4 separate regions of the Homo sapiens genome follow, and regions 2, 3 and 4 are each linked to region 1. Evidence: fine-mapped expression QTL. A gene starts in region 1. Each other region holds a variant in brackets. All regions are shown on one strand. Distances are between the middles of the regions.

Evidence for each region.
Region 2: its variant is fine-mapped to the expression of LINC01011 in whole blood (INTERVAL, PIP above 0.99).
Region 3: its variant is fine-mapped to the expression of LINC01011 in whole blood (INTERVAL, PIP above 0.99).
Region 4: its variant is fine-mapped to the expression of LINC01011 in whole blood (GTEx, PIP above 0.99).

The regions. Positions count from the first base shown.
Region 1 is chr6:2,986,750-2,989,435 of GRCh38, forward strand. It overlaps LINC01011 (long intergenic non-protein coding RNA 1011), which reads left to right and starts at 1,218. Exons shown (of 3, transcript NR_026856.1): 1 at 1,218-1,282. NQO2-AS1 (NQO2 antisense RNA 1) reads right to left here. Exons shown (of 2, transcript NR_186367.1): 2 at 2,587-2,686. RefSeq lists enhancers at 1,160-1,969, 1,970-2,686 and a silencer at 2,163-2,582.
Region 2 is chr6:3,011,181-3,013,866 of GRCh38, forward strand. NQO2 (N-ribosyldihydronicotinamide:quinone dehydrogenase 2) reads left to right here. Exons shown (of 7, transcript NM_000904.6): 4 at 1,364-1,494. Among named protein-coding and RNA genes, the nearest start is that of NQO2, 13 kb to the left of the region's middle. RefSeq lists an enhancer at 2,635-2,686. The variant G/A (reference allele first, on the strand shown) is at 1,333.
Region 3 is chr6:2,961,515-2,964,200 of GRCh38, forward strand. All of the region lies in intron 1 of SERPINB6 (serpin family B member 6), which reads right to left. Among named protein-coding and RNA genes, the nearest start is that of SERPINB6, 8.7 kb to the right of the region's middle. The variant A/C (reference allele first, on the strand shown) is at 1,622.
Region 4 is chr6:2,950,601-2,953,286 of GRCh38, forward strand. SERPINB6 (serpin family B member 6) reads right to left here. Exons shown (of 7, transcript NM_004568.6): 5 at 2,444-2,586. Among named protein-coding and RNA genes, the nearest start is that of SERPINB6, 20 kb to the right of the region's middle. The variant T/G (reference allele first, on the strand shown) is at 1,502.

The sequences.
Region 1 (2,686 bases):
GAAAGGTGTCATAGAGTCCCTAACACTTGAGCTGAGAATGAGAAAGAGCATGAGCTGGCCAGGTGACACACAGAGCATATTCCAACCTAGGAGACTGGGAAATGGGCCAAAATATATACGTTTGAGGAAACAAATAGCTTACTATATAATTAAATATGAGGCAGTTTAGACTGGGCCCTTATGGATAAGTCACACCCATAAATTTTATTTCATCTTACAGGCAGTGGAGAGCCTCTGGAGGATTCTGAGCTTCGTGGTCTCATCATCAGAGTTATGTATGGCAACCATCCCAACCTTTTTGGCACCAGGGAGGGGTTTTGTGGAAAACTATTTTTCCTTGGACAGCAGAGGATGGTTTCGGGATGATTCAAGCACATGACACTTCTTGTGCACTTTATTTTCAGTGGGAGCCCTGAGCTTGTTTTCCTGCAACTATCTGGCCCCATGTGGGGGTGATGAAGACAACGGCAGATTATCAGGCATTAGATTCTCATAAGGAGCGCACATCCTAGATCCCTTATGTGTGCAGTTCACAGTAGGGTTTGTGCTCCTATAAGAATCTAATGCTGCCTGATCTGATAGGAGGCAGAGCTCTGGTGGTAATGCAAGCAATGGGGAGCAGCTGCACATACAGATAAAGCTTCACTAGCTCACCCACTGGTGGCTCACCTCTTGCTGTGTGTCCTGGTTCCTAACAGGCTACAGACCAGTCAGGTCTGTGGCCCGGGGGTTGGGAACTCCTGGTGTATGGAAGAGACTACTCTGCAGCAATGTGGACAAATAGGATGAGGGTGAGCTGTCAGGGGAGACAGGCACACATGGCAGAGCTATTTAAAAAGGAGGATAGATGACCAGGCACAGTGGCTCATGCCAGTAATCCCAGCACTTTGGGAGGCAGAGGCAGGCGGATCACGAGGTCAGCAGTTCAAGACCAGCCTGGCCAACATGGCAAAACCTCATCTCTGCTAAAAATACAAAAATTAGCTGGGCGTGGTGACATGCGCCTGTAATCCCAGCTACTCAGGAGGCTGAGGCAGGAGAATCACTTGAACCCGGGAGGCAAAGATTGCAGTGAGCCGAGATCGTGCCATTGCACTCTAGCCTGGGCAACACAGCAAGACTCTGACTGGAAAAAAAAAAAAAAAAAAAGGAGGATAGACAGGGCTTGGGGATTGGTGGATGGGTAGATAAGGAAGGAGGAGTCTAGCATGACTCTCAGACTACTGACTTGGACCAGCAGGGGAATGGCTGTGACAATAAATAAGATTGGGAAAACAAGAAGGTGAGCAAATTTAGAGGAGAAAATGAATTTCATTTTTGGCATGGTGTGGAAGGCTCGGGAGAGAGGTCTAGGCACCAGATGTCAACGTGAGGTGAAATGGATATAGCTGAAGTCAAGGGTGTGGTGAGGTTTTGCAGGGAGAGCAGGGACCTCCAGCAAGGCCAGTGCATAAGGGAGAATAGAGAAAAAAAGAACCAGAAAAAGACAAGGAGAGGCCAGAGAGGTGTGGAAAGAACCAGGGAAGACAGTTATTCACAACAAACAAAAGAGGGCAGAGTTTTAGAGAAGGAACTGAGCAGTTTGGGGCTCCAGGTGGGGCAGGAGTGGGTGGCCACGGTTGAGGGGCAGTGGCCTTCAAATTGGTCTGGGTAGGTTCTAATGGGTCAGATTGGTCAGTCCTTTCCAGGACACTGAAGGCTGCAGAGGTGTGACTGGATGCTGGTGGAGGGATGCATGGCGGGGAAGCTGAGTCAGATCCTGAAATCCTCCAAGCATGCGCCTGAAATGACCAAGGGAAATGAAGGCGGAGGCTGCTGTCGCCTGGTGGCCTGGGAAGGGCCAAGAGCCAGGGAGCTGGAGGGAGGAGAGAACGTGCGACCTCAGCACGGAGCACTGTAGGGGAGGCGGGGCTGGAGGGAGATGGCGCCGCGCTCCCGGATGAACAGAGAAAGCGACAGGGTGAGTCGCAGGGCACAGTGTGGGATGAGTCACCGACAGCAAGGCATGGACTCCGGGAAGAAGGGGAGACGAGCCGGGAAAGACTTGCATCGGGGATGTGAGCTGAGCTGCACCCAGACAAAAGCGGCTCGGGGCTCCTGAAAGCAGCAGGCACCGCCGGTCCTGCCAAGGGGCTACTTCCTGCGCGGAGTAGGAGAGTAGGAGACCCCAGGCCAGTCCCAATCCCCGGCCCGTCCGGGATGAGGGGGGCTGCGGGAGCTGCGGGGGCCTCCTCCAGGGAGGACGGTTGCAGGGTCCCTCGGCCGCCGCCCACTCCCGGGGGCGTTCCTTCCTCCCAGCTGCGCCCGGAGCGCCTGCTGCCTGGCGAGAGCCCGCCCCTCTGCAACCAGCCCGCTGCAGCGGAGGGCGCCTGGGTGCCCTCGGCCGAGCCAGCAGCCCACGGTCGGCGCCGCACTGTCCCCTGGTGGCGGAGCGCTCCCGCGACCCGGCTCGCCACGCCTGGGAGGGGTCCAGGAGGACGCGGCTGGGACCTGGGGGCTCTCAGGGTGGGGCCTTGGGGGATGAGGCTGGGGCCCGCGGGAAACCGGGCTGGGGCGAGGAGGCTCGCAGGACTTCCTGCCACAGAATGTTTCGATGCTTTTTTTAATTCTGCAAATGTAAGCCTTTCCACTTTAAGTCCAAGCTCAGCGCAGAGGACTGTTCTATAATACATACAATTTAGTTTAA
Region 2 (2,686 bases), 24 kb after region 1:
CTTTTAAGGAAATGTGGTAATCCTCAAGATCACACAGAAAAGCAGTTCAGAAATTTATCAGTTAAATTTTACAAAGAGATTGAAATAATTTTTAAAAAATCAAACAGAAATCTTGGAACTAGAAATACATTTGCTGAAAAATTCATTAGAGGCTCTCAACAGCAGAATGGATGAAGCAGAAGAAAAAATCAGTGAACTCAAAGGCAGGTGATTTGAAAATACACAGAGGAGAAAAAAGAAAAAGGTATGGAGATTTCTTACAAAATATAGAAAATTACCTCAAAAGACCAAATCTAAGAATGATTGGTGCTTAAGAGGAAGCTGAGCAAGAGCAAGGCATAGCAAGCTTATTCAAAGAAATAATAACAGAAAAATTTTCCAAAACTTCAGAAAGAGATAAATATCCTGGTAGAGGAAGGTCATAGAATAAACAGATTTGACTCAAATAGGACTACCCCAAGGCATATAATTATTAAACTCTCAAAGGTCAAGAACAAAAAGAGGATCCTAAAAGCAAATAACATGTAACAGAGCTCCAGTTCATCTGGCAACAGACTTCTCAACAGAAAACATATAGGCCAGGAGGTAGTGGGACATTTTCAAAGTGCTGAAAGAACAAAACTGTCAACCAAGAATACTGTACCCAGCAAATCTAGCCTTCAACTCTGAAAGAGAGAGAGTCTTTCCCAAACAAAGAAAAGCTGAGAAAATGCACCACCACCAGACCCACCTTACAAGAAATGCTAAAGGGAATTCAATAAGAAAGAAAAACACTAATGTGCAAAAAGAAAACATTTGAAGATGTAAAACCCACTGGTAAAAGTAAGTACACAGAACACTCTAATACTGTAATTGTGTACAGTCCACTCATTACTAGTATTAAGTCTAACAGACAAATCTATCAAAAACAATAATCACTACGTGACCTGTTAAGAGCCAAAGATAAGCAATATAAAATATGTAAATCAAGACACAGATACTCAAAAATGTGGAGGTGAGCATGAAATTAAAGCGTAGAGTTTATTTTTTTAGACCTGTTTGGCATTGAACAAGACATCCAGCCTCTCTTGGGTGTCAGTTTGCTCTCTGGTAAATTGGGAAATACACCAGTCTCACCAGTTGTTATGAAGAAAGGTGATGTGTGTAGAGCACAGCACCTGCTAGGTAGCAAGTGCTCAATCAGCAGCCCTCCCAGACTGCTTCTCTTTCCCTAGCTCGGACCCAGGGTGCAGCTTCTGGTCAGGTTGCAGCAAATGTCTTTGACTTGTCTGAGGAGTCCGGTATACACAGTGCTACTGGGATGGTTGGGATGGGCTGTGGATGCCCACCTAG[G/A]AGTGAGAATGTTTGGCCTCTTCCCCGACAGGTACTCTTTCTAATCCTGAGGTTTTCAATTATGGAGTGGAAACCCACGAAGCCTACAAGCAAAGGTCTCTGGCTAGCGACATCACTGATGAGCAGAAAAAGGTTCGGGAGGCTGACCTAGTGATATTTCAGGTTTGTTTTTCTCTAATTAATATATTGAATCAGATTCATCTTATGTACAAACTCTTTCTGAATATTGAGTTTTGTGCTGCTTCTGGAAGTGGCATCAATGTTTTGAGCACAGTTGCACACTTACTGAGCAAATATTGTAACCTGGTTACAACACCTAGTTACAACATTTCACCTAGTTACACCACTTCACCTAGTTACAACACTTCACCTAGTTACAACACTTCATCTAGTTACAACACTACTTTAAACACTGTACGTAGATGTAACACTACTTTTTTTTTTTTTTTTTTTTTTTTTTTGAGACGGAGTCTCGCTCTGTCGCCCAGGCTGGAGTGCAGTGGCGGGATCTCGGCTCACTGCAAGCTCCGCCTCCCGGGTTCACGCCATTCTCCCGCCTCAGCCTCCCGAGTAGCTGGGACTACAGGCGCCCGCCACCACGCCCGGCTAGTTTTTTGTATTTTTAGTAGAGACCGGGTTTCACCGTGTTAGCCAGGATGGTCTCGATCTCCTGACCTCGTGATCCACCCGCCTCGGCCTCCCAAAGTGCTGGGATTACAGGCGTGAGCCACCGCGCCCGGCCGATGTAACACTACTTTAAACACTTTACCTAATTGGGTAAAGATATCCACGTAGCCAATATCACTCACTCCAAATCCCGACTGCCATGTAAATAGGAATGAAGGATATTTCCATTATTCCAGTGGTCCAAGAATCATCTGAAACCTGCCAGTCTTGTTGCTTCCCTTCTCTTCCCGTTCCTGCCCTGAGACATTCTGGGGCTGCTTGAGAACCACATTTATCTGCACAAATGTTTATCAGGGTAAATCAGGCCAAATGCATCTCCTTAAATATCCTGCCTTAAATATCCTGATCATTAAGAGGAAAATCTCTGGTTTCTACCCTCTCAGTGGTTGCTTCACCCCCAGCCCAGCCACCTTCCTGTATTTGTTCACAAGGAGGTGATGCCACTGCAGAGTGAACTGGCCCAGCAAAATGCCCTCCAGGAGTGCTGACTCATCAGGCCACTTCCCGCCACTGCAAGGAAGATGTGCAGGCATGGCTGTGGCTGTGTAAACCTGGCAGCAGAGTACGCACATGAGCTTTGAGGGAATTGTTGGGTGACAGAAATTCCTGTCCAACTAGAAGGAAAGGGGAATCTATTATAAGGGCTCTGGTCACTTGGGCCTCCTGG
Region 3 (2,686 bases), 25 kb before region 1:
GCCCGCTTATCAACTTGAAGAGAAACAATTGGTAAAACAGGGAAACTTCTAGGTTAAGAATAAGAAAAGAGGAGATGCCCCAAAGCAAGAAGCACAGCCTGTGAAGTCCGTGTCTCAGGACTCAAAGCCAGCAGACACCCTGACACGTGGGGTTTTCCCTGGCCTGGGGACATGGACTTCTGTCTTTGTCCCCAAGAGGGCTCAGCCCACGTGGAGAGGCTGCCAGGTGAGATGGCTCCTCCATAAACCAAAAAAAAAAGACAGAGGTTAAGTACCATGTCAGCTGGCCAGGGGAAGGTCCCACATGCTCCCCCAACCCCATCCTAGACTATTCTACCGTCAGCACACGTTTTCCCCTCAAATGCTGAAGGACTCTTACGCTTTTTTTTTTGTAGAGACAAGGTTCTTGCCACCTTGCCCAGGCTGCTCTCCAACGCCTGGCCTCAAGTGATCTTCCTGCCTCAGCCTCCCAAGGTGCTGAGATTACAGCCATGCACCACGCCCAGCCTAAAGGACTTTTAATTCAAATGGAAATGTCCACCTAAGAAAGGCTAATAATAAAACACTCCGTCTCCGGTAATATCCCGGAGAATCTGTTTCAGGCGCTGATCTTTATATCAGTAACTTCAACAAAGCAAAGCCACCTTTGTCTGAAGACACGCCCACTGGGGAGGTGCCTGTCTGGCCAGCCCAGGTTACACCATCTGGGGCAGAGGAGAAGTCGGTGCACATGAGTTTCACTGTGTCAGGGGATTTAATTTGAAATACTGAACTGGAGAAACCAAAGCAGGATATTCGGAGGAGAAGTCAGTGCACATGAGTTTTACTGTGTCAGGGGATTTAATCTGAAACACTGAACTGGAGAAACCAGACCAGGATATTCGGAGGAGATGGCACGAGTCAGGAGGAAGACAGGGTCTCTAGTCCTGGCTCTGGTACCCTGGGCAAATCACTGGACTCCTGATACCAGTTTCCTCTCTGTATGAGGAAAAGCATATACCAGATAATCTGGGTTCCCTTCCATCTCTAACATTCAATAATTGTTAATACCAAATGCAGAAGGAAGAGCAAAAATGTAGCTCAATTTTCAAAGCCCACAGTGAGGTCAGTAATGATATTCCATTTCTTAGTTGAAAACACTGCTGACAGCCGTGAAAGGTAAAATTCTATCTATGCCTTACATAAAAATTGCTGAGCAACAAAGAAACAATAAATCAAGGATGTCCTAGAGATTTAATTTTCTTAGCAGAAACTATGTTAGTCATTAAATAACTGAATATCCTACTCCTGATAAACACCCTTACGTCAAACAGCAAGTGGTACTTCCCATGCTTCCTTAACAAGGTAAGAATTACCTACTTCAGCAGCCACCAGCACAGCTGATGATAGAACATTAGTCCCTTAACTCCCCAAACAGGAACAAGATAAAAATATCTGTCGTCCCAACCTTGTGTAACTTTGTTCAGATAGTTCTGGCAAAGGCAAATACAACTCATGAAACATAATGAGAAAGGAGATTGTCAGAAAGGAGACAAAATGAGCACAGTTAGCAAACAATTTGATGGTCTACCCAAAAAGCAGCCAGAATCAGTAAAATACTCTTAAAACTGAAAAATAATGG[A/C]GTAACTGGGCTACTAAAAAAATAGGAAAAACAGACCCCAGTAGAAACACGTGCAAAGGACATTAACAAATTTACCCCCAAAAAAGAAAGACAATAGCTAATAATTATATTTAAAAGTTTCAACTTCAGAAAAAAATATCACTTTTTTGATATATACTATGTGCTAGGTCCACACTGAAAGACCCTTACCCTCTGAGATAGCTGCTGAGAACACCTACGTTTTATAAGCAAAGAAATCGGGCCTTAGCTCTTTAAGTACCATGTCTCCAGAGAACCCAGGGCAACAATGGCAGAATGACGGCTGGAAGCCAGGACCGCATGGCTCTGTAGTTCACTCTCTTAACACCATGGTGCACAGCCTTCCCAAAAAGCAATGGTGGAGAGTACATTAAAGATGCCTTTTCAAACCATGAACCTTGCAAATACAAAAACAATTCATGCTAATACTGACAAAGACAGGCAATCCTTCTCACGCCATGCAAGTAATACGGAGGCAGCAGGGACAGAGCTTGGCCCGTACCCACTCCCGTATTTTCCATACATCCCCCACGCCATCACACCTGCCCACCAGACCATGCAAACCAGGGAGGGAAACAAGATAAGCCATGTTCCACCCCAAATCTTACCCAAGGGAGTTAAGCCTGATGCCCACATGCATACAGGATCAGAACGACGATCCTGACCTCTTGCCTTGTTGTATTACTAAAACCCTCTCCTCAGGGGCTCATCTGCCATGCCCTGATCATGACACATCTGTGCTAACATGATGTTCCCCGGTGCCTGCCACTAGCGTGTGTAATGCTGCTGACACACCTCATGACTATCCATGTCACCCTAAAACACCAGGAACACCTGTCCCGAGGGCCAGCCCGGGAACTCCTGCCCCTGTGCCGCTGCCCTCCTGCTCCAGCATAAGCCCATTATAAAGCCTTGTCTGGGACACTTTCTCTGTCTCATGTCAATTTCCACTGCATGAGAATCTAAGAACCCACGATCAGTAACAATACTGTAAATTGGTACACCAGTATTTCCTGAGTATGATTTAGAATTATGTCAAAAATAAAA
Region 4 (2,686 bases), 36 kb before region 1:
TGAGCTGGGATGCTAAAAAGGCCAGGCAACATTTACACATCTCACCAGAAAAAACTGCACTGGTCACCAACCCCAGCCAGCCAATGAGAAAGACTGGAGGCCAGGAACCACACCCCATCCAACAATCCCCCTCAGTTCCTGACTCGGAGCTGCTCCTGTGAGTTGAGTAAATACCCTGCAATAGGCACAGTCAAAGACGCCGTATGGTCCCCAGTCTCTGGTGTAGCACATTCTTCTGTGTTAAATGGAATAAATAAAATACACTGCGGCGGCAGCTTTCTGCTTTCACGTGGTAGAGGCTCGCCTGGGCTGGCCCTTAGCCTTTGGCTAGAGCAGTCTCCTGGGCCTCGGCTGCCCCACTCATTTCCTTGGCCAGCAGTAGGCATGTTTCTTCCATAACTGACCAGACAGGAACTATTTTCCGGTTTGTGGCTACATGTACCATCTCCGTCACAACGACTCAGCTGTTGTTACAGGATGAAATAAGTAAGTAAATAAGCATGGGCCAGGCGTGGTGGCTCACGCCTGTAATCCCAGCACTGTGGGAGGCCCGGGCAGGTGGATCACCTGAGGTCAGGAGTTCGAGACCAACCTGACCAACATGGTGAAACCCCGTCTCTACTAAAAATGCAAAAATTAGCCGGGCATAGTGGCACACACCTGTAATCCCAGCTACTCAAGAGGCCACGGCAGGAGAATCACCTGAACCCGGGAGGCGGAGGCTGCAGTGTTCCGAGATGGCACCACTGCACTCCAGCCTGGGCAACAAGAGAGAAACTCTGTCTTGGAAAAAATAAAAAATAAAAAAAAAAAATAAGCATGGCTGTGTTTCAGTAAACCTTTAAAAAAAATTAGGTGGTGGGCTGGCTTTGCTGTAGGCTGAAGTTTGCTGACCCCTGCCTTCAGTAATTCCTCCCTGCACCCCTTCAGGGTCCAAAGCCTCCAATCTTGCAATATAAAAAGATCTAACCTTAGTGACTGAATGATTCACTAAATACACAATTATATAGACAAGTTCCAGTTTATATAGAAGGTAATGAAATTAAAATAAGAATCTGTATCAACTCAAAATCTGTGCCCTTGGAGGTACACCTCTGGCCTCAGGCTGGTACGCTCAATACTGCAGCCCCTTCCTTCACCCTTCTTCACTGCAGAACTCAGAAAGCATGACGGGATTCCACATCTCCCCAAACCCACAAGACCTATAGTTCTGGCCTACACCATATAGAAAGCAGCTTTCCCTTTCTGAAACGCAGAACCACTAAGGGGAAGGTTTAGGCTCCCCTCCCCTCCCTTGTTCCTCCCCCTCCCTGCCACCGGGACTGCTGAAGCCAGCTCAGCCATCTTGTGACCATGAGGAAGAAGGCGACGTGCTGAGAATGGTGGAGCCGCCTCCCTGGGATCATCGCCCCAGTGCCAGACCAGCCCAGGTCTCACCTGCCTCCAGACCTCCTAGCAGGGGAGATGAGCTCCTAGGAGATAAACCATGGTGAACCGGGGT[T/G]TCTGTTATCTGTAGTCAAAGCCCTTGTACATCTTGTTAATCATTAAATTTTAAAGAGAGAAATTATTTTGCCAGGGGAAAATAGCACAGTTCATTTCAGAATAAAGCTTCAAAGAAAATAATTCTTTCTGAATTGCGAGGAGAACAGACAATGAAAATAAATTTCTTGAAAAACTGAAGGCTCAAGTTCAAGTTAGCCTGGAAGATCTAACTATGGTCAATGATCAAGAATACACTGTAATTAATCTATTCTGTTTACTTTGTCTATGTTCAAAAATTTCTATAGTTAAAGAAAAACAAAACAAGAGACAATAAAGAAGATTCAGTGAGAGGAAGATAAAGGGCCATCAGCAAATGACATCTTCCACGCTGGAGGTGGTTAATCTCAGTGTCTATCTACATGTTTGGTTTGGTTGTTTTAAAACAAAAATCTGTACTTATCCTTACTATCAAGAGAGGACTGAATATCACTCATCGGTTCAGCATTTACTAAGCACCAGCTACGTGTCTGGCACTTGTCAGAGAGTCCTCCCTGCTCAGCCTCAATTCAGCAGGCTGAGTTGTTCCGCTCCTGCAGTGTGGCACGGAGGCCAGCAGGAGGCGCGGTAGCGGGGCTTCCCGGGACGCCGCCAGAAAGAAAGGAGTGGGTAGGTCCTGATGGGAATGAAGCTAGAGAAAAGGAGGAAATGTCCGCTAGAAGATGGCACGCCATATCTGGAGTCTGAGCTTTAAGACCTTGATCGAGCCTGAGGGCTGCAGCTTCAGACTTGCCCTGTAGGTGGCAGGGCGGATGCCAGGCGCCCAGGGACACGAGGCCACCCAATGGATGTCAAGCAGGAGGGGCAGGGACAGAAAGGCCCCACGGCTGCAGACGCGGGAGGCCCCGAGCCGGAGACGCTCGTGTGAACACAGGCGCTGCTCCTGTCACGGCCCCTTACTCGCCTTGCTGACTTTAAACAGTCTCTCCTCGGTGTTCTCCTTGTCAAACTGTTCATCCCAGTTTCCTCTGAAATAGACAGCATTCACCAGAACCAGCCTTGTCAATGGATCCACTGAGCCCGGAGAGAGCAACTCCGCAATTTTACCTGAGCGGAAGAATTCAAGACCGCATTAGATAGGGGCGGCTGCGGATCCCCGACACATCAGGAATCGGCTGGGGCCTTCTCCTTCAGCAGTCAAGTGCAC